2 separate regions of the Homo sapiens genome follow, and region 1 is linked to region 2. The links come from fine-mapping of genetic effects on gene expression. A gene starts in region 2. The other region holds a variant in brackets. All regions are shown on one strand. Distances are from middle to middle.

Evidence for each region. PIP is the estimated chance that this variant, and not a neighbour inherited with it, causes the effect.
Region 1: its variant is fine-mapped to the expression of EIF2S1 in tibial artery (GTEx, PIP 0.98).

The regions. Positions count from the first base shown.
Region 1 is chr14:67,306,710-67,318,058 of GRCh38, reverse strand. PALS1 (protein associated with LIN7 1, MAGUK p55 family member) reads right to left here. Exons shown (of 15, transcript NM_022474.4): 9 at 5,349-5,532; 10 at 1,156-1,227; 11 at 580-651. It also overlaps a transcript of GPHN not described here. Among named protein-coding and RNA genes, the nearest start is that of ATP6V1D, 47 kb to the left of the region's middle. The variant T/C (reference allele first, on the strand shown) is at 5,870.
Region 2 is chr14:67,354,997-67,366,345 of GRCh38, reverse strand. EIF2S1 (eukaryotic translation initiation factor 2 subunit alpha) reads right to left here and starts at 6,018. Exons shown (of 8, transcript NM_004094.5): 1 at 5,890-6,018; 2 at 1,338-1,579. The coding sequence starts at 1,578. It overlaps ATP6V1D (ATPase H+ transporting V1 subunit D), which reads left to right and starts at 6,542. Exons shown (of 9, transcript NM_015994.4): 1 at 6,542-6,688. The coding sequence starts at 6,648. It also overlaps a transcript of GPHN not described here. RefSeq lists enhancers at 5,763-6,562, 6,583-6,802, 6,645-7,431.

The DNA of each region.
Region 1 (11,349 bases), 48 kb after region 2:
AAACACTGGGAGTGGTAGAGACTGTTAAACTAGACACCAGGTGCTTGATATAAGAGCAACAGTCATCACTCAGGTCCAGCAGACTGTTGTCACCTAGGAATACTAGCCCAACATTATCAGAGCTTTTGATTTTAAGAGAAGCTACAACTTTCGAGCTTTTTAATCTTAGCAATCAATCAAAATAAAACTAAAATTCTCTTGTGTGTCTGACTTAGCCAGCAGGTAGTGGGTTCTCAGGAATGAGTTGCTTCTGTGACATGAGCTATTGTAGAGGACATAGTTTTTACTTCAAGTATGTTCTGTAAGAATTTGTTAGAAGTATAATTTTTGCAAAGAGTTTAAGTAGAAAAAAACTACAGGAAACTGTCAATTTAATACTACATATGCTAAATAGTACTTGAATTTTTGTATCAGTTTTCCCCAGAATTCAAAACACTGCCTTACTCACAGGATTCCAAAAGAAAATACTTTCTACTAAATGATTTTCTCAAGCACATATTTAACATTAAGGTGCAAAACAGGACTAGGTTTAGACTCCTTTCAGATATAATTCCACCTATCCCTGAGAGTAGAACTTACCATCATTTTTATTGGCATTATATAAAACCTTTTTCCTCTTCTTTTTATTCTTCTTTGCACACCACAGTTTTCCTGTTGAGCAATCATAAACATAACTATAAATGTGTTCCCGTGAACAAAACCACATAACTCAAATTGAAGAACTCTATTTATTCATTCATTTATTCTTTAAATTTTTTTGCAGAAACGAGATCTCCATATGTTGGCCACGCTTGTCTTGAACTCCTGGCCTCAAGTGATCCTCCCGCCTCAGTCTCCCAAAGTGCTGGGATTACAGGTGCAAACCACCACACCCAGCTTGTTTTTAATTTACTTTTATAAATACTTATTACACTGTTTGTATAAAGACTATTTTTCAGGAAAGCATTTACAATTTTCAATTAACTACACAGTATAGACAGATAATCTTTAATACTTAAATCTTATCCTTTCTTTACAGTTCTGAGATAATCAGTTTTGCCTCTTGTATCACTCTTTCCCTGAGTACTTCTTCACGGTTCTAATATGCAGATTCACACATGGCTCCAGATGAAGACCCAAGAAACCATTTACTTATGTCAAATACAAGTGTCTAACCTGATTTTTCTGGCTCCTTATCTTCTTCTATGGTTTGTTTCATGGCTTCCCTTTGCTGCTGAAAGCTTTTCCCTTAATAGCAGAAAGAAAAAGAAGGGTAAAATATTTAAGATAAAAGGATAAGAATTTTTTTTTTAATCAAGAAGGGAAAACACTAGACATATCTCTTCACTTATATTCCCTTCCAAATCCTTTTGCCAACACAGGAGTAATGTCAGCTATGATGTGTAAGCCTCCAAATTTTTAAAATATTAACTCTGCTCAATCAATCCCATATGTATTATTAGAATACATATCATCTACTAAAATATTTAAAAATTTAATAGTTCAACTTTTTAAAAGGTTTCATTGAGCATTTACTTTGTGGAAAAGTACTATCCTGGATCTTACAATGGTTCTAGGTCCTTTAGAATTATCTCAAATTAAGGATATCAATTCTAGGAATTAACTTTTCCAAAACAACATGTGCGCATTCATCACATATTCAATTCCATATTCAATTCCAAGAAACCATTCAGTATATTCCCTTGCATGCATTATTCTCAATTCCTCTTCTTTTGTGTATGTATATGTGTTAGCCATTTTTTATTTCCACCCTTAAGTTACCAATTATATAAATGGAAAACGTGCTTTTCCTTACAAAATTAATATTTTAATATAGGAGGCTTTCAAGGTTCCTGACCTTGAAAGAGGTTTTCTTTTCCGACTTCTACTTTAAATCAAATATGTCTTTTCCTATAGGATACAAGTGGCTTCACTTAGAAGATTCTGAATTACGTTGAGGTTCCACTTTTTTATTTTATTTTTAAATCTACTTTTTTTCAGTGTAAAGCCAGAGATTCTTAAAAATCAATAAGCAAATTCTACATAGGTGGGGATAATCTGTAGAACTTAGTGCATTTCGTAAGTGTACTAACAAAAAGATTAATACTGACTTCCATACACATAAGAAGCATTAAAGGAAGCCTGGTTATCTTTTGAGACGAAGTCTCGCTCTGTCACCCAGGCTGGAGTGCAGTGGCGCAATCTTGGCTCACCGCAACCTCCGCCTTCCAGGTTCAAGGGATTCGCATGCCTCAGCCTCCCGAGCAGCTGGGATTACAGGGGCCCGCCACCATGCCCAGCTAATGGTTGTATTTTTAGTAGAGGCTCGGTTTCACCATGTTGGCCAGGCTGGTCTTAAACTCCTAATCTCAGGTGATCCTCCTGCTTGGCCTCCCAAAGTGCCAGGATTAGGGGCATGAGCCACTGTGCACGGCCAAGACTGTATTCTTAGTACAAGTAACTATTACTAGAAGGAAAATTTTAAGAGTATTAAAATTTAAAGGGGTCGGGTGCAGTGGCTTATGCCTGTAATCCCAACACTTTGAGAGGCCAAGGTGGGCAGATCACGAGGTCAGGAGATCAAGACCATCCTGGCTAACACGGTGAAACCCCATCTCTACTAAAAATACAAAACATCAGCTGGGCGTGGTGGTGGGCACCTGTAGTCCCAGCTGCTCAGCAGACTGAGAGAGAAGAAGGGCATGAGCCCGGGAGGCGGAGCTTGCAGTGAGCTGAGATCATGCCACTGCACTCCAGCCTGGGAGACAGAGCGAGATTTTGTCTCAAAAAAAAAAAAAAAAAAAAAAAAAATTAAAAATAAGTAACCGATTTTTAAAAATCAAGAACAAAGTAATTTTAATCATTTACATATTAAAAATGTAAAACATTACAATGATGTACTTCTGTGGCACTTTTTGTAGTATGAACTATAGGCTATTCTGAAATAGAGGCAGAAATTAATGAGAGATGGAAATGATTTTCTTTCTTTTTCTGAGACTGCTCTGTTACACTGGTGTGATCAAAGCTCACTGCAGCCTCAACCTTCCAGCCTCATGCAATCCTTCCACCTCAGCCTCCTGAATAGCTGGGACTACAGGTACGCACCACCATGCCCAGCTAATTTTTAAATTTTTTGTAGAGACAAAGTCTCATTATGTCAGCTATGCCACTATGTGGCCCAGGCTAGTCTCAAACTCCTGGGCTCAAGCAATCCTCCCACCTCAGCCTCCCAAAGTGCTGGGATTACAGGTGTGAGCCACCAGGGCCAGCCTCATAATGACCTCTTAAAAAAATCTGTCTAATTCTGATGGAAAGCCATCGTCAAACTCTAAGGCAGATCTTTAGTCTTATAAAAAGACTTAGAAATGTCATCATTGGAATCTATATACTTTCAGAAAATCAATCTATCAACAAACACTAGTTCTAAACATTTATGGGCTAAAGTTCGGCATGGTAGGAAGACACCATACTGATATTTGGCACAAGCCTGAGGCAGAACCACAATGGCTACCCAACACTCCAAGATTCTAGAGAAATGTCCTGTAACTGTTACTCTGAAGAATCACGGGTTTTAGCATCATACTCTAAAATAAATGTAAGAAGTCCATTCCTCCTTCCTTAAAATATGACTGATATAGACAAAATCTGTTTCTAGCCTCTGAGTTTTAAAGTGAGAAATTTGAAGCTTTCTGTGACCTTATACTCAAAAAGAATAAATGTAAATATTATGTTGAAATCTCTTGTACCCAGAAAAGTCTCTTTGGCTTAGTTACAGAGATAAAAGAGATTCCTTATAACTTATTCTAAAATCTTTGGACAACTTCCTCTGTTCCTACTATGTATCTCATAGTCAATATTTCTCAGTCTTTTTTTTCATGCCCTCCTTTTCTTCTTTTCCCCTAAACTATTGCTTGTTGTCAAATCCAGTGTAAGGCTAAGTCTATAGCCAAATCTGTTATGCTTAAAATCTTCTGGTGTGAGTAGGAGGGATGATCGCTAAAAAAGGTTGTAGATAAAAGATAAGGCCAGAAAAACATTACAGCAAAGCATTGAAAGGTCTAATTCAGAAACAGCAGTTCTGGCAGAACTATTTTTTTTTTTTTTAATTTTTGTTTGTTTTCTGAGAACTTTTAAAATCATCTTTTATTCATTAATTTAACATATATTATCTGGATTTAAAACAAATAAGACTTGGCCTCTGACATCAAGAAGTTTATAAACTGAGCATATACAGTAGAAAGAATTATAACAGAGACAATATCATGAAAATATTATAAAGTAGGGGACACAGAAGAAAAAAATATACATAAGTGTTAATGGATATGCTTTCAAGTAAAGTATGTAAGCGAAGTTTATCTCAGCACCAGGCAAAGTGCTTTACATGGTGCAGACATAACAGCATTTATTAACAAATAAATGGATGAATTATTATCCCTTTACTCTATATCCCTATTTTTATCATCCTGTATGTATTCCTTTGCCTTCTCCGATAGCTTATTAAACTTCCCTTAGTTCTGCTCTCCTTTCTTTATTCTACTGCCATCCTGGGAACTGTAAGAGCCATTTGTAGAAAATAATTATATCTACATACAGTCATGCACTGCATAACAACATTTCAGTCAACAACCAACCATATATATGATGGTGGTTGGAGGAATAGGCTATACCACATAGCCTAGCTGTACAGCAGGCTATATCATCTAGGTTTGTGTAAATACACTCAGTGATGTTTGCACAACAATGAAATCACCTAATGGCACATTTCTCAGAACTTATCCCTGTCGTTAAGTGATGCATGACTGTACTTTGTTCTATTTTGTATCATCTTAACTCTCAGAAACATGTCCCCTTAATAATCTTAATCTATAATGTAAGCTAAAGTTTTAGTTTAGTCTAAGTTAGGGATAGTTTCATCAATAAAAAATTTGGAGCATCCTGTTTCTGCCCTAAGATCACGTTTGGTACAATAAATTCTATGATGTTACTTTTCCTGACTCCTTATAAAGTTATGCATCTTTCCTTCTCAAAAATCATGTTGATGCTCCAATTAATGTCATAGTATATAGTATATAGTATAATACAAGTTGTATTGCCTCGATAATACGGTCATCTTAATATGTATACAGGAAATGTACTACAATATGGGATTGGCTGAAGTTATACATAATTCCATTCTAAAGGCCAAAGAATTGGCCACATTCTATTTAATATACTTACGCTGCAGGTACAACATAAAAACCCAACTACACGAAAAAGTAACTGGAATACTTTATTAAATAGAGGCATGAAAGAGTGAGTTTTTCTTTGTGAAGGCTTGCATTTTCAATGTTCTTTTAATATTATGTACTTTCTACCATATTGTGTCTTACCTGGAACAAGCCCGGCTAGAGGTTGATTATCTTCGTCCCCTTCCCTGTAGGCCTGCCACCAGTTTGGATCTTCTTGACTGATCACATGAAGTATATCACCTTTTTGAAAAGACAGACCTAACTCTCGACATGGAACATAAGGGTCATCTGAGGGGTCATAGTCAAAATGAGCTTTTACATGGATCTAAAAGATAAAAAGGGCAAAAACAACAATAAATGGCAATATAAAATGTTTCATATGAATACAATTTAAATGCTACAAATTTTTTATTATTTTTTAATTTTAAAAAAATTTAATAGAGACAGCATCTCAGTATGTTGTCCAGGATAATCTCAAATTTCTAGCCTCAAGCGATCCTTCTCCCTCAGCCTCCCAAAGTGGTGGGATTATAGGTGTGAGCCACTGCACTTGGCCACAATTTTTCATCAGTGCAAAGAAATTGTAGTTGGAAGAAGGGTGTTAAGTAACAGTGTTTTTGGGCAATATTTTTTCAGGCTGATCTGTTATCTTCTCTGTTGAC[T/C]TGCAGATATGTACAAGGATATCCACAACACTGTTCGCAGCTACAAGCTGAGGTACAAGGTGCCTCAAAAGCTTGAGAGAAGCAGAAATAGAATAGAATCCTGACCTGTGAAAACAATGACTCTGCAATAAGGTATGCAATTTCCAAACCACAGCTACTAGAAAAGGTACACTTTACCTTACCACATCTCTTCATCTAAGCAGGTAAATATGAGCTTCCCTGGGGCTGTCATTGTCTCTTGACCCCACTGTCAGTCCAACTATGCCTTAAACTCTCTTGGCGTTTCTTTTAAAGGATATGTTCATGAAACAAGCACACTATCAACGACTAAAATTAACTAAATCAAGTTTATAATCAATTCTTATTTGTATGCTATGTAGGCTTTGACATATTATTAACGGTACAAGTTATAATTTTTGCTAATAATGTGTTTTTGGAAATCAGAATAAATCAAAGAATTGTGCTATTCTACTTAGCATTAAGGGCAGGTAGTAACTCTCATGAACTTTATAAGCTATTCTGTATGCCATTTCTTCCAATATGCCTCTGTAAGATATGACAGACTATTCTTACTTCTAAGAAGTTATAAAGGAATTAAAATTCTCTTTAATTTCCCCATGTCTAATTTTTACCTAACCTGGGCAAGTTGCATGTGACACTTCCAAAATCTATAAGAAATCTACTTCATCTAATGAGATCTCACACAAATTTGTAATGAGCATTTCTGCCCACATATTTGCAGTGAGCATTTCTGTCACACATAGGTTAAATTCCAAGTTCAGGCTCAACGAACCAAGCAAAAGACAAACAGTCTAAGAATTCAAGGTCCATTTCTATCCAAATATTATTTGGCTTTGGCTTTTTTTTTTTTTTTTTTTTGAGACGGAGTCTCGCTCTGTTGCCCAGGCTGGAGTTCAGTGGCACAATCTTGGCTCACTGCAAACTCCATCTCCCGGGTTCAAGTGATTCTCCTGTCTGAGCCTCCCGAGTAGCTGGGATTACAGGCACTCACCACAACGCCCAGCTAATTTTTGTATGTTTAGTAGAAACAGGATTTCGCCAGTTGGCCACACTGGTCTTGAACTCCTGACCTCAGGTGATCCACCTGCCTTGGCCTCCCAAAGTGCTGGGATTACAGACACGAGCCACCACGCCTGGCCTTAGCTTTAAGTGTTTTACTCTCACCATAATTGAGGTTATATGTAATAAAAGTAATACCAGTCTACCCCAAAAGGGGCACTTTTTAAGCGCTCTTTAAGCACTTGAGACACTGACTAAAATGAGTACTGTCGATGACAGACTATATGAAATTGGAAAAAATGCTAAGTGACAAAGATAGACATAGATAGATAGATAGACAGATAAATGGCTTTTTAAAAAATTTTTGGCTTGTCATTAAAGAATATTTTTTAATTTCAAAGAATATTTTATTAACTTCTATAAATAGGAAATAAAGCTGAGTCCTAATATACAAACTGAAACTAAGGTTAAAAAATGATCTGGTTAAAAATACAAAGATATAAAAGTTAAACAGCTACCAGCAAAACTTAAATGTTATTATGCCTTTTGGGAGTAACTTTTGATACACAAAAAATACACATTATCATAAGTGTATAGCATAGTGAATTTTCACTAACTAAACAGACCTGTATAACTAGCATCCAAATCAACAACCATCATATCACCAACACCTCAGAGGCCCCACCTGGTCTCTTTCCATCACTACCCATCCCATCCCCTCCAAGGATAAACATCATCCTGATTTCTAGAAACACTGATTATTTTCCCCTGTATATTAATTCATATACATGGAATAGCATAGTATATAATCTTGTACCAAATATAGTTAAGATAACACACCAAATTTGAAAGTGTTGTGGCTCATCCTAAATGCAAAGTGCCCTAAAGAACCTCATTCTAGATGTGAAAAAACAGTTTTTATTAAAATCTTGAAATCTTTCTCAGTCAGCACTAAAAATGAATTTTAGAAAGTTGTGTGGGATAGCAGTGAATCAAAACACAGTTAAGAGATTGAGCAAAAAGATTATACAAATTTATAATCTTGGCATGAGGAAAAATCTCCTATGTAGTTTTATCTAGAAATATGTTTTCTTTAAAAAAAAAAAAGTGCTTGAGCACCATCCTATCAATAATACTTCTAGAATCTGTTTGTTACTTTTTTGCCAAAAAAAAAAAACCTTGAGAATCTAAAAATGGAATTTTTGGCATCACTTGTAGTGGAGAGATCAATTTTACCAGATTTTTCAAAGATCAAATCAAAGTACTTGTCAATCTTGATTGACAATTTTATCAAATCACTTTCTGAAAGCCTACCCAGTATGTTGTTTTTCAAAGTGTTTTTGCTCAGATCACCTGCCTAGGATGTTTATTAAAATGATGAATTCTCATGCCGCACCTCAGACTCTCAGACTCTGAATTTTAATCAGGTTCCTTGGGTAATTATTAGGTACAGCAATCTTAGGGAACTACTACCCTGAGAGAAATTAAGACCCGTGAGGAGGGAATATCTACATTTATGACCATTGCCATAGGCCAACAAAATCACCCAGAGATGCTTTTCCATGTACTCTTGCCTATGCAGTTCTCATCCCTTAACTATTCTAATTTAACTGGCTTGGAACAGGGCCCCTCTTTGTGTAGGCTGGGAAGAGAACATGCTTTACTTATGTGACAAGTTTCTCTAGTCCCATCTAAAATATACCCTAAAATTAAGAGAAAAAGCTCTTACTTTCCTAAAATTAAGAGGAAAAGGCTCTTATTAATTTTTCCTAAGGAAAATTTATTTCACATCTGAAAAATTAATGATTTGAATGAGTTAAAGTCTGGGTATTGCCTTAACAGATACTATATGACTTTTATCCATATATTCCACTGATTAATTCTTACCAGTTCTAGAAGTTATCTCCACCAATCTTTCCTGCTAGTGTCAAAATTATTTTGTTTCTCATACAACAAAAAAAGCCCCTTTAAAATGAAGGAGATAAGCTGACCCTCATAGGAAAGGTCCAGGGCCTCATAATGCTATAATAATATCAGAACAGTATATCTGATCAAAACAGTATTTGGCTTCTGAACAAAACAAAATCTTCTGTTTACATTTCAAATTGTAGAACTGTTTGGACGCAATTATCTTCCAGCCCAACATTTTCTTTTTCCTTTTTTTAATATCTATAAGCTGTTCACATTTGAAGTCGTAATGATGAAATGGGGATAGGGTACAGGGATAATGATTCATCAGTTTATTTACATGTTTTTTAGGGATCCAATGTTCCAAAATATTGTTTTTCAACCAATCAAGAAGGCTATTAGAATTACTTATTAATAAAACTTGTCCTATATTGTAATTTGGGATAGTAAGTAGAGTAGTACATATATATACAATATGGGAGGGGACATGTTCAATGTTTTTTAATTGATAAAGGTATAAAACAAAATTAGCTGGTGGCACAGTAGATGGTACTTGTACACGGTACAGGGTAGCTGTAATCCCAGCTACTTGGGAGGCTGAGGCGGGAGAATCACTTGAACCCAGGAGGCGGAGGTTGCAGTGAGCCAAGATGGCACCATTGCACTCCAGCCTGGACAACAGAGTGAAACTCTGTCTCCAAAAAAAAAAAAAAAAGAAAAAGAAAAAAATATTTGGAGAGTGCTGATCTAAAACTCAGGATCTATATTCCACTTGCTCAATGGACACTCCTTTGGAAAAGTATAAATTTGCCACAACCACCTGGACAGTGTACTTGGGAGACAACTTTGGGATTAGCTTAATGGAAAGGTTAGTACTCATGAAGGTAAGGCTATCACATTGGTGACGCCCTCAAAATCAAAGAGAAAAAAAAGAAAAAAAAAAAAAAGGAAGTTTGGTTTTTCCCTTTTCTATTGTCTAAGTATTAGGTTGGCTTTTATACTTTTTACACTGACTTTTTTTTTTTTTAAACTGTTAAGTTCAGGGATCCAACTGCAGGTTTGTTACATAGGTAAACTTGTGTGTTGGGGGTTTGTTGTACAGATTATTTCATCACCCAGGTATTAAGCCTAGTACCCATTAGTTACTTTTCCTGATCCTCTCCCTCCCCCTGCCCTCTACCCTCTGAAAGACCCTAGTGTGTGTTGTTCCCCTTTATGTGTCCACGTGTTCTCATCATTTAGCTCCCACATGTAAGAGAACATGTGGTTTTTGGTTTTCTGTTCCTGTGTTAGTTTGCTAAGGACAATGGCCTCCAACTCCATCCATGTCCCTGCAAAGGATATGATCTCATTTTTTTATGGCTGCATTCGTATTCCATGGTGTATATATACCACATTTTCTTTATCGAATCTATCATCGATGGGCATTTAGGTTGATTCCACATCTCTGCTACCAAAATATTTTTCTTTGTAATTTTTATTTCTGTATCTCTTACTATCGCAGATTTATCTTTAACTCTTAAAGTTCATTGTAGAAGAGAAAATAGTGAAAGTGAGTCAAGGAAAGCCTTTATAGCACCAAGCAAGTTTTTAAGTATCTCCACACAACACTAGAATTTCTCCTTTCCCCACATCCACCAAGAAATAAATGTCTTTATTAATACATTTTTATACCTATAATGGGAAAGCAATGTATTTGATAGCAGTGGTTCTCAACTTTTCTTTACAACACAGTTATCTCTGTAGTGCCTGGCACAGAGTACATAATCATAATAATAGCTTATATGTATTAAACAATCAATAATCTGTTAATTTTCTGGTACATATTCTGTAACTAATAAGCGATGTGATCCTTCTTCATTTAAATACACTCCTTGTTAGATTATGGCATTAGACTAAATGAAAAAGTCCCATTCAGATAAAAGTCTATTATGCCCTCCCTACATATTATTATAGTATAGAATAATCTAAAGTTTTACAAACTAGTCTGGGAAATCCAATCCTTCCTTTTTTTAAAAAGGCCGAGAGAAGGAAACTGTACGTTTGAATAATGTATGCATTTCCTAGATCAAATGTGCCAGTTACTCAGGAAGTGAAATACAGAGGTGCCAAGACTCTTGCCCTCTGCTACTGAAAGAGCAGCCACTGATTGCTATGTGTGATACAAAAGAAATTTAAGAACTCAAGAGAGCACTTCTGACACAGCTTATTATTGCCATACATGACATCATAATTCAACAAGTCATTATATAGGGGTTTCAGATAACACTTATTTTGTATATCTGTCTTAAACACATTTCTAACATCACAAAACATAAATCAGGAAGATATCTGCTGCTGCTGCTATCAACAGATGCTGACCTGTACCATAATGATACTCAATAAATTGGTTCTAATTTCTTTAGATTATTAATTCCATAGATAATTATTCTGCATATGTCAACCAAGATTATGATTTCCTATTACTGTTTCCTTTCTGGACAGCCTCAATGAGCTTTAATAATAGCAGTTCATTTTAAGCCAGTTAGGTCTGACAAAACTTGGCAAGATAT
Region 2 (11,349 bases):
AATCCCAGTACTTTGTGAGGCCAAGGCAGGAGAATCGCTTGAGCCCAGTTCAAGACTAGCCTGGGCAACACAGCAAGACCCCATCTCTACAAAGAAAGTTAGCTGGGCAGGGTGGCACATGCCTGTAGTTCCAGCTACTTGGGAGGACTGCTTGAGGAACACTTGAACACAGGAGTTCAAGGCTGCAGCGACCTATGATCATACCACTACACTGCAGCCTGGGTGACAGAGCAAGACCCCAATTCTTAAAAAAAAAAAAAAAAAGTACAAGATTAGACACTACTTTAGGTACTACTAGGACAGTGATGTGAAGACTTACCTAAGTTTAACAAATAGTCTCAAAGTAGTTTAATAATTTTGGGCGGGGCTATAGCTAAGTCATAGCAAAACATTTAAAACAATCCATGTGCTAAGTAGCAGTCACTACCTAAGGCATAAGACATCCTCAAAATCTATGTATCATCTAAGGCTATAATAAAAAAAATTAAAATGTCAGTATGTATAAAATTAATCACTTGCAGAAGTGAGAAAGTATCAGTAAACCAGACGGCTGAGGAGATTCAGAAGGGTAAGTTGAATCAAGGTGACTGATATGAAGCCTTTCGGACATGATGGTAACTAATGACCTAAAACTAACACCTAACAAATTATAGTAAGATGGCTGAAACTAAAACCTACGTAATGGTATTGTACACCATGTTTAAAAAAAGAGTATTCACAAAGGTGATGATTTACATGGGGCCCAGAAAAGGCATCCAATAAGTAAAAAATGAATGCTCATCCAAAACTGTCTGAAAGATACCACGAGATCTGGTAGATGCAAACATTCTAATTACCAGCAAGATATACAATGTTGGATTTCAGGTGTGTATATACACGCATAGTATATTGCTTTTTCAAAGCTTATATAAAAGATCCCTAAAATCCATTTGCCCCATTTTCATGCTTACCCAGTGATCTCATTACTATTTTAGCTTTAAATCAAGAAAAAGGCATCCAACATATTCAGGCCTACCAATGTAAATGAACTAGTACTCTGACTTACCTGTCTCTAAGTTTGGTTACCATGAGTCAATTATCAAGATCCTGATAAACACTAGAAATAAAATTCAAGTTATCTGATCCATAAAATCCTAGGATGTACTAATTAAACTACTATTAAGAGATCTTGCTTAGATAGCTAATTGGCATCCTTTTCTAACAACTTTGTATGTAAAAGGTTTAAGTATAAAAGGAGCTTTTTTTTTTAAGCTGCAGCTTGCAATTTACAAAAAATGTATTTTTAAATAAACCATTTTAAATCTGAAATTTATATTACAGATATTTTTCTCACTTACCTTTTTCTTTGTCCACCCTAATGACAACCACACACTCATTCCTGCCAATTCGGATGAGTTTGTTGATAGAACGGATACGCCTTCTGGATAATTCACTAAGAAGAATCATGCCTTCAATGTTGTTGTATTCCAGCAAGCTGACATAAGCCCCCATTTCAGCAATGGATCTGACATTCACCATCACTACATCTTCCACCTCAGGAAATTTGTGTTGATAAAATCTACAACTTAGACCCGGCATTCTGCAATTTAAACAAAAGAATTAAGTAAGTATTCAGTTAAGGTGAAAATAAAAAAAAAATCAATTTCCACATCCTGCCACTGAAAGAAAAGATGAAGAAAAAAATAGTTATTAGTCTTAGTCTTCTCATCCTTTGAAACTTCTTAAGTGGTACCAGAAAACAGATAATGTTCAGGAACCAAGCTTTAATTTTTATTTTGCTCAACATTTTTGTAATGCTTGGGTGATTCTCTGCCTTTAGTTTCAGAGGAATCATAAAAAATAATGACCATCTATAAAGTACTCCAAGACCTAAGGATTAAAGGAATACCTCAAGAGTAAAATACTACTTTAAGGCATATCAAATGATGGGAAGCATCACTATTATAACTAATCAGAAAACTAAAGCTACTCTTTGCCGAAGTGAGCAAACATTGTATACGCTACCACTCACTATATAAAGGAAAAAATTTTCTACCTAAACCCTAACCAATATACCAAATGATACATTCTGTCATTTATTATAGCCAAAATTACAGTGTCACATGTCAAAACAACAAAAACTAAAAAAATTTTAATCACAAAATAAACTAAAATGCATCCTCCTCTCATAATTCTTTTTCCTTGAATTCACAATGTCTAGCTTCTCTTATCCCCAATACTCCCAAATATTCCTTTCTTTTATTGAATAGGTATACCTAATCTTGAGAATAGCTTTAATCTCCATTACTACAAAGTTCAAGTTTCTCTTAACCTCCAAGCATTAAAGATATTTACAATTATTCCCTTTGATCCACCCAACCTACTTTCAGCACTACTCCTTTTATGATCCACAAGCCTGAAATCATAGCCTGGGTAGAAGCATATTTAAAAAAGGAAGCTCTCAAACTAATCATGGCTGATGATTTTCATGTTTTTCTGTTAACCTTCACTGTTGTCACTGCTCAAAACGTAGGTAGTAACAGAACTTAAAGGCCTAAGAAAACCTTGTGAAAATTCATATAATAACTTATTAATTGGCACCTGCCTATATCTTCTCAGTGGCTTCCCACTGACTTATGTATCTTTCCACTACCTACAGAATCCTATATGATCTGGCCATTGCCTATCTCCTTGTGGTACAACTTTCTCCCTAGTTCTCCCCATTTTATAGATTAAAAAACTGAAGCACAGGTTAAGTTACTTGTTCTTTCACATACTGCTAACAGGTGATGAGTCAGGATTTGAATCCATGAAGTCTGGATCCAGAGTCTGTCCTCTTATCAGTAAGACTATATTCTCTCAAAACTATTCATAAATATATTATAATTAGAAACATTTTACTTAAAAAGCAACATTAATATATATTCAGTGCCAGAGTACATAACACCAATAAGTGCAAACTATTAGTACTCATCTGTTTGACAACAAAGAGCAGCATATTAATGACAGTAGCAGAGATGTATTTCTTTGTAGGGAATACAAAATCCCTACAAAATAGGGATTTAGCAAATAAAGAGAAGTAGACATTCAATGGCCTTACCCACCAAGAAACAGCTGACTGTTTGTTTCGTTTTTAAACAGGGCTTTTCGAGGGTGGGGGTGGGGAAACTGTTGTTGAATATGTGTATGTAAAGCTCTCAAATTTGAGAGCTAAAAAGTTTCAAATTGGGCATAAAAATAAACTATGTTACAGAAATGTATGGAACAGTTGCAAGACATTTGACCAGTGAAAACCACATTTACTTACCAAGCTTCTCCAAACAGTAAAGGTGATGCTTTTAGGGGAAGCAAGGCTTAATTTGATGGTTAAAAAACATGGGCAATCATGTAAGAGAATCCTGAAGGGATATGACTATGAATACTATTTCTTCAGGAGGCACAAGTCTCTTTGCAACATAAAGGGTAAGTAAAGGAATACTGTTGATGGTATGTTATTCATAGTAAAGATAGATAGTAGTTAAGTACAAAAAGAATCCATACCACAAAAACCTGCATATTGGTTGACAATTTTTGAACATATTGCCTAATGAAATGCTAATAACTTAAATTTTTTTTTTAACTTAAAAAAATCATTCCGCAATATCGAAGTCACACTAGGTGACTTCACCTCTTTATCTTTTTCACAGCATTCTTATTTTATTTGGTCCTCAAGAAGTGTCAAATCAGGCAATTAACATAGTAAACTCGGGGAACAACTCTAGCCTTGTGTTCCAGTCCTTGCTCTGCTACTTACTAGAAGTGGCTGCTTGGGAAAGATAACATCCTTTGAACTGTAGTTTCTCATCTGTGCCATGTACATCACAGGTTTACTGAGGGTATCACATGTATACGTAAAAACATTTTGAAAACCATTATGTGCTAGTCAAACATAAAATATTGAAAGAAAAAGAAGGTATTTCCATTTTGTAATATAATAATTTGTTAATTTTTTTTTCAGTAGCTACTATGTACTAAGCACTAATGATACAACAAGAAAGACTCTTACCAGGCCAGGCGCAGTGGCTCACACCTGTAATCCCAGCACTTTGGGAGGCCGAGGCGGGTGGATCACTTGAAACCAGGAGTTCGAGGCCAGCCTGGTCAACATGGTGAAACCCCATTTCTACTAAAAATACCAAAATTAGCTGGGTGTGGTGGCAGGCACCTGTAATCCCACTACTATAGTGGCTGAGGCAGGAGAATCCCTTGAACCCAGGGGCAGAGGCTACAGTGAGCTGAGATCGTGCCACTACACTCCAGCCTGGGCAACAGAGACTCTGTCTCAAAAAAAAAAAGAAAAAAGAAAAAAGAAAAAAAAAAAAGACTCTTACCTAAGTAATTAAGTATAGAGTGGGAAACAAACTAGCAAGCAAATAATTACAATACAAAGTACTATGAAAGGGCACAGTGAAGCAATGAACAGGAAAGGTGGAACAGAAATACTAAATTATAATACTTCCTTAAGAACAAATGCTTAATAAGTACTAGCGTAGGAGCTAAACTCAAGTAATCCGACATCAAATCCAGAATGTCTTTAACCCACAGAACCTCAATATCACAACATGCTATAATACTCTTATGTGTTCTGATGTAAAAAGTATCAGCCACCTTTCAAAATATATCAACCAAACTCCAGGCTAATTTCAAATACCCTGCATAGTCAGTTATTTTGCATGACAAATGGTAGGTAGGACTTCTTTCTCAAAACAGTGCATGGTCAAACTGCTATAATGGATATAGAAGTTCACATTCCTTTCCAAAATATATTATGTGATGGGGACAACTCTCGTGATAATTCTAATTTGGATCTAACACGTATTAGGAATGCTCTCTGAATGCTAGTTCTTGGTATAGGAGTGCTACATAAGTAAAGCTTTTATTTCATCATTATAGTTGAAAAAGAAAGTTATCACCGAATCTCTACAAACATTACTGTGCATGAGACAACTACATCTTTTGGCACCAGATGAACTAAGAATAGGTAGCAAAGTTCTGTACAAGTCACCCCCAAACTATTGACAGAGATTGTTCCTTGAATAACAACTCAATTGAGGGGAAATAAAGACTTCTCTGCTATACTTTTTCTCGAAGAAACCATGTTTTTTGCTTAATAAAAATTTAAAAAGCCTAAGTTTTGAGGATAAAGAGACCTCAGCATGACTGTGTATTTAACCCGAAAATATATCCTTATCTTAGGTTTTAGTTATGCTTAACTAACATAGTTAACCTAACATATGCTTAACACAGTTCTATTCTCATTGTCGCCAAAATACGACAAACTGATAGTAACAGTAATAAACTCAAGTCTCATTTAGTTTTGGTTCAAGGGGTGACTCATTCAATTATCAGATGAAAAACTACTCGGACCCCGCTCTTTCCAACACGGTGCCCGTCCCACAGGTTTCTCAGGTAAGAGGCCAGTTTGGTTTCCACTGAGACGCAGGGGAAATTTTTGGTAGAGCTGTTGGGGCGGAAGAAAAGATGGAATTCTCAAGCCTGGAAAAAGCAAAGTGCTCAGCGTCCTGAGCCGGGGTTAAGAGTTACGGTGTCACAGCGTTCTCCTGAGACCGCCCCATCGTCATGGCATTCTCACTTTCGGCATATTGTAGAGGCTGTACAATCCACTCGGCCCACTTTCCTTCACGAGATTCCTCTGCTCGAACAACGATGCCTCTGGAACACAGGATGACCTACACGGAGCCGGCGAGGAGGCCCACGACAGCGCGGGTGGTGGCGGTGCTGTCCAGCCACTTCCCGCGCAGGGACGGGAAAGGGAGGTATTAGCCCGGGGCCTACCCGCTCTCGAACACCCATGTCACTGGACACAAACCAAAGTGAGTTCCTGGAGAAACCGAGCTTGGGATTAGTCACCTGAGGTATGTGTGTGATTCCCGCACTGGAGCCCAGAGCCGACTTCTTCAATCACAGAGACCAGACTTGCTTCCCCCTCACCGGCCGCCGATCCTCCTCAGCGTGCGCTTCGCTCACTCCACCGCGCATGCGGAACCTCCTCGCATGCGCAAGCGCTGAACGAATAGAGGCCCCTCTTCATCATTAACCATAGAGTCTGGGTCCTCCGAGAACAAGGACGAATGTAGATCATGGAAGGACCTGAAAAGTACTGTTTCTCGCTATCTTAGCTTTAGCTAAGTAACCTTCAAGGCGCGAGAAAGACATAGGACTCCGATTCCTTGCCTCTGAAGAATGAATCCTCTTTCAAAGTTTCAGCTAACCATGAGATGGCGCTGTGACCAAAGACGAAAGGTGGAGAAAGACAAGGCGTGCACGCTTCGCTCCTAGTCTTTGGCCTGGCGCGTGCCGCGTATTGCGCAGCCGCAGGGAAGCTGGATGGGGAGGGGTTGGGAGGCGAACCGGAATTGAGGGGTGGTTCCGCGGTGCGCGCGCCTCGACATCCGGGCAACGCCTCTGTTCTGTCCTCCCCCTTCGTCGCCTGTGACAACCGGAAGCGGAAGTGAAAATGGGTGTCCCTGCTGCCTCTTAGCAACAAGAGGGGTCAAGTGACACAACCAGCTGACTCCCGTAGAGGAAGACACTGTGGAGGCCAGTTCTGGAGCTATTGCAGCCTCGGTTGCCCGGCCGGGGACCCGAGCCGAAAAGTTATCGTCAGAATGTCGGGCAAAGACCGAATTGAAATCTTTCCCTCGCGAATGTAAGTAAAGGAATGGGATAAGCCGCTTTCACAGGTTTAGGAACCCGGAGCGCGGTCCCTTCAGACCCTGGGCCACAGTGAGGGTCCTTGTTTCCTGGGAGGATCCTGAGCTTTTCCCAGGTTCTTTTCTTGAGTCTAGGGCGAGGCTTCCTGACGGCCTCTTCGCGCATTCCTCCTGAGTGAATCAGGCTGGACGAAGCGATCCCAGCCGGTAGGAAAAGGCGCCCGGCCGGCGGGCTTTTGTGGAGGTCTGCTGTCTTTATTCATTAATGGATTCATCCATTCCACATACCCTTATTGAGCCGGGCACTGGATTTATATAACTGAACCGTCGCCACCTCTGCCCTACAGAGCTCACAGTTTACGTAGCCAGACATTCGTCTGGAAAGGCCAAGGAGGTTTTAATAAATGCTCTGAGAAGGGAAGTTTACTGAGGATATAGAAGAGGTCCCTAAGCCAAAGTGGGGATGGAATCGAATCGCCCTAGCATAGCCCTCGGATTCGATCTTGGATCCCCTTACTCATTTTCCAAGATCCCGCCAAATGTCACCTGCTGTGAGAGGATATCCCTGTGTTTCTGAGGCACTGCTTTTGCTCTCTCACCGCTGCACCTTGTTCAGACCTGTGTTAATACCGGTCATCACGCTGTAAAGTAGATATTTGTTTATGTGTCTTTCTCTCCCACTAGACTGTGGGCTCTCTCCAGGATGAAAGAGTGTCTTAATCCATAGAAGGTCCACAAAAAAATATTTCTTGAAAGAACTCATGCTTGGGAATACGCTCAGTTGTGGGCTGCCTTTCTTTTGGGGCCTGAATTCTTTGTCAGGAAAATGGCATATCACTGTAGGTGTTTGGCTAGTTTGTAAGGAAAATTTTGACGTTTTCTCAAATGTGCCTAACAACTTGCTCCCTTTCTCCTCCTCATCCTGTTTATTTTTATTTAGTTTGTTGTTTGTTTGTTTTAATAAGAGACAGGGTCTCCCAGGCTGGGGTGCAGTGGTATGATCAGAGCTCACAGCAGCCTCAAACCCCTGGGCTCAAGTGATCCTCCGGCCTCAGCCTCCCTGGCGGCTGAGATTATAGATGGGAGCCACCGCGCCTGGCTTTCCCTTTTTCTTTTCAGTGAGGAAGCAGAAAATCAGTTTTGACCCTGACATTTAGACCCTTTTATTGTGGTCCTATCTCTGTGGGGGTGTTTTGTTGTTTTTCCTCATTCTGTCCTTTGAGAGAATCTGAGGATGCTTAAAATAAAAGTTATATTCAAACCTGAAGCCCAGATTTCTTTCTGCCCGGTGACTAAATAGCTCTTAATGAAATGAAGTTTTTAAATTTTTTACCTTCACCTGTTGACTTTCTAATAGCTGTTTGCACTAAGTAGGCAGCAAGCTAGTTGTGGGGAAATAAAGATGAGGACTATCCCGAGGTAGTGACAACTGCAGAACTCCTAGGACGTGATGACTCAGTCAAAACTTCTGCACTGAAAGACATCGACACTAGTTTATCTTCTAGCAATGTAAGGCCTGCCCCTAGGGTGACCCCAGGCCGCCCCCCGCCGCCCCCGCCATTAAAATGCCTGCCTGAAAAAGCTCAAAGCTAGGGGGAGAATTTACTGTTTGTTCTAGTCAACACCTAATTGATAGACCCCTCTCGTTCCCTTTTTAGAGCATTTACGAAACAGGCTTACAATTGTTAATATGTATCTCTTCCAACTCTGAAGTGTCCCTTCAAGTATCTTTGAGAGCCATTTCTTTGAAACGTAATCATCAGGAGGGATAGGGGCTTTGTCTCCCAGTCTGTGTGAGAGGATAGAATAGTAACTTACTAATTGCCAGGTAGTATGGCGTTTACACTGACCAACACTTTAAGGTTTCTCTTCTCTGACTCTTCTTGCGGCTGGCTCCCTGCCACTCCCTTACTCTCTTTTTTAAAATGGCCAGTCACCTCTGCACAAATGAGAATTGAGCTCAGCCCTTTCCCCTACTATCAGTGGTTTACTGAATAAAATCTGTTTTCACTACTTTAACGAATGTCTGGCTGGGTTTATCTTTGACAGCAGTCAGAATAACTTTTTTGTTTTTACTTTGAAACTTTTACTTTGAGACTAAGAGGCAAAAATAGACATCTTTGGGCTTAGGTAAGAAAATGATAGGCTCATGAAGGTGAAACTACTATTTGAAAGCTCTCAGCTTGCTGATTGAGAGGAAAATCAGGTGCAGGAAATAATCTCTTCTCTAAATATTTTCCCCATGGCTGGCAGCAGGCTTTTTGTCATGTAGTCAGATGTCTTTGATTCAGCTGGAAGAAAAGTCATCATCCTAGCTAAAGGTCAAACTTTTTGAGTAGGACTGAGCAGCTCTGAAACATGTAAAGGAGCAAGTTTTAAAAGCCATAGGCTAGAAAATATACTGGCAGCTTGTTTCACAGACATTTCCATTCAACAGTATTATTCTGTGATGTTACTTTCACCCACTTTCGTACCAGAGAAAGCAAAAACAATTGTAGAGTGGAAGTAAAAGACGCATGAAAAATTTGGAGTCAACAGAAGTCCACTAAATCCAGGTTCTGCTACATATTAGCTGTAAGTGTGCACGCTGCTCTTAGAGTTTCAGGAATTAAAATTGCCCATTTCACAAAGATGCCATTCCCTAGGAGGAAAATAAAATTAACATGGTAAATTCAATTTTATCAACCAGTTTACCTTTTACTATAAACTGGCTGGAATATGCAGTACTACAATTTGACTTAAATTTGATCCAGCTCTTTGAGCCCAAGTTCTAGTATTTACTATCAACAATACATTATGTTAAATGCACACATTGAGATGGATAGCTCCTTCTCAGGCTGGAAACTAAACGACCTTCACTTGATAAGACCTCTTGTGAGACCAGTCAGTGCAGAGTCAGCCAGTGATAATTGTTCTCTTTAAGGGGAGGCACATGTTTGGGGTACAGTGAACGTAGGTTGGAGCCTTAGTTTGAGCATTGGGAAAGTCAGTGGAATCAAAAGTCTGGTTCAAGTCCCTGCCCTGCCTTTTCTTCACTGAGTAACTTTGAGAAAGTTGTTTTACTTTTCTAAGCCTCATTTTTCTAATCTTTAAGTTAATGTCTAAAGTCCCTTTCAGCTATAGAATTGTCTTAGTGATCTTAGCCCTATGGTAAAAGATTCCAGTATAATTTAAGAATTTGGCCAAATGGTGTTTGTTTGTTTTTGTTTTTTTTTTTTTGTTTTTGTTTTTTTGAGGCAGGTTTTCCCTCTGTTGCCCAGGCTGGAGTGCAGTGACCCGATCTTGGCTCACTGCAACCTCTGCCTGCCAGGTTCAAGTGATTTTTGTGCCTCAGACTCCTGAGTAGCTGGGACCACAGGGATGCAGCACCATACCCAGCTAATTTTTGTATTTTTTGGTAGAGATGGGGTTTCACTATGTTGGCCAGGGTGGTCTCGAACTCCTGACCTCAAGTTATCCACCTGCCTCGGCCTCCCAAAGTGTTGGTATTACAGGTGTGAGCCACTGCACCTGGCCAAAAAAGTTTATTAGTACATGCGATTTTAAAACACCAGTCATATGAAATTATATCCCCTTAAATCACTGTGTCTAGGTTATACTGTGTCTAGGTTATACAACCTTATTGTTGAATTTTATTACCCAAACACTTGTTTTTTTGAGACCGAGTCTTGCTCTGTTGTCCAGGCTGCAGTGCAGTGGCATGATCACAGCTCACTGCCTCAACCTCCTGGGCTCAATCAGTCCTCTCACCTTAGCCTTCTTTGTATATGGGATTACCGGTGTGCCCTACCATGCCCAGGTAATTTTGATATTTTTTTTTTTTTGTAGAGACAGGGTTTCACCTTGTTTCCCAGGCTGGTCTTGAACTCAAGCAATCTACCCACCTTAGCCTCCCAAAGTGCTGATTATAGACATAAGCCACTGTACCACTTACCTTATTTAGAGCATTCTTCCTAAGGTCCTCCAGGTACTTTTCATTAGCTCTTTTTCCTGCCTGAAATACTCTTTCCCCGGAACTTATAACTGGCTCCTTTGGCTGTTCTAGTCTCTTAAGAGAGGCTGTTCCTGATCACCCAATCTAAAGTGAACACCATGTTTGCTTCTGTCATAATTCCTTATTTTAATTTTATTGTAGCATGTACTACTGCATGGTATGACATTTTATTTCTAGTCTTTTTTTTTTTTTTTTTTTTTTTTTTTTTTTGAGACAGGGTCTTACTTCTACATCCTCGAACTGGGCTCCACTTTTTTCATTATTAAATTGTATCTGGCATATGGCAGCAAGAACAGAAATGTCAGTTTCTGCTTGACTTTGGTATTGGGGCTTCTGATGGGGAAAAAAATTGAAACAAGGAAGTGAGGAGACTTCAGTGTAAATTTAGCTTGTCATTTCTCAGGAATCTTACGTATGTCATTTGTTACCTAGTCTTTTACAAATTAATAAAATGATTGCTGTTAGGATCTTGATTGATGATATCAAAACATGTTAATACCACACTTTTAATAGAAAATGTGGTAAATTATTGTGGTATAAAAAATGCAGGCCAGGTGCGGTGGCTCATGCCTGTAATCCTAGCACTTTGTGAGGCCGAGGTGGGCGGATCACCTGAGGTCAGGAGTTCGAGACCAGCCTGACCAACATGGAGAAACCTGTCTC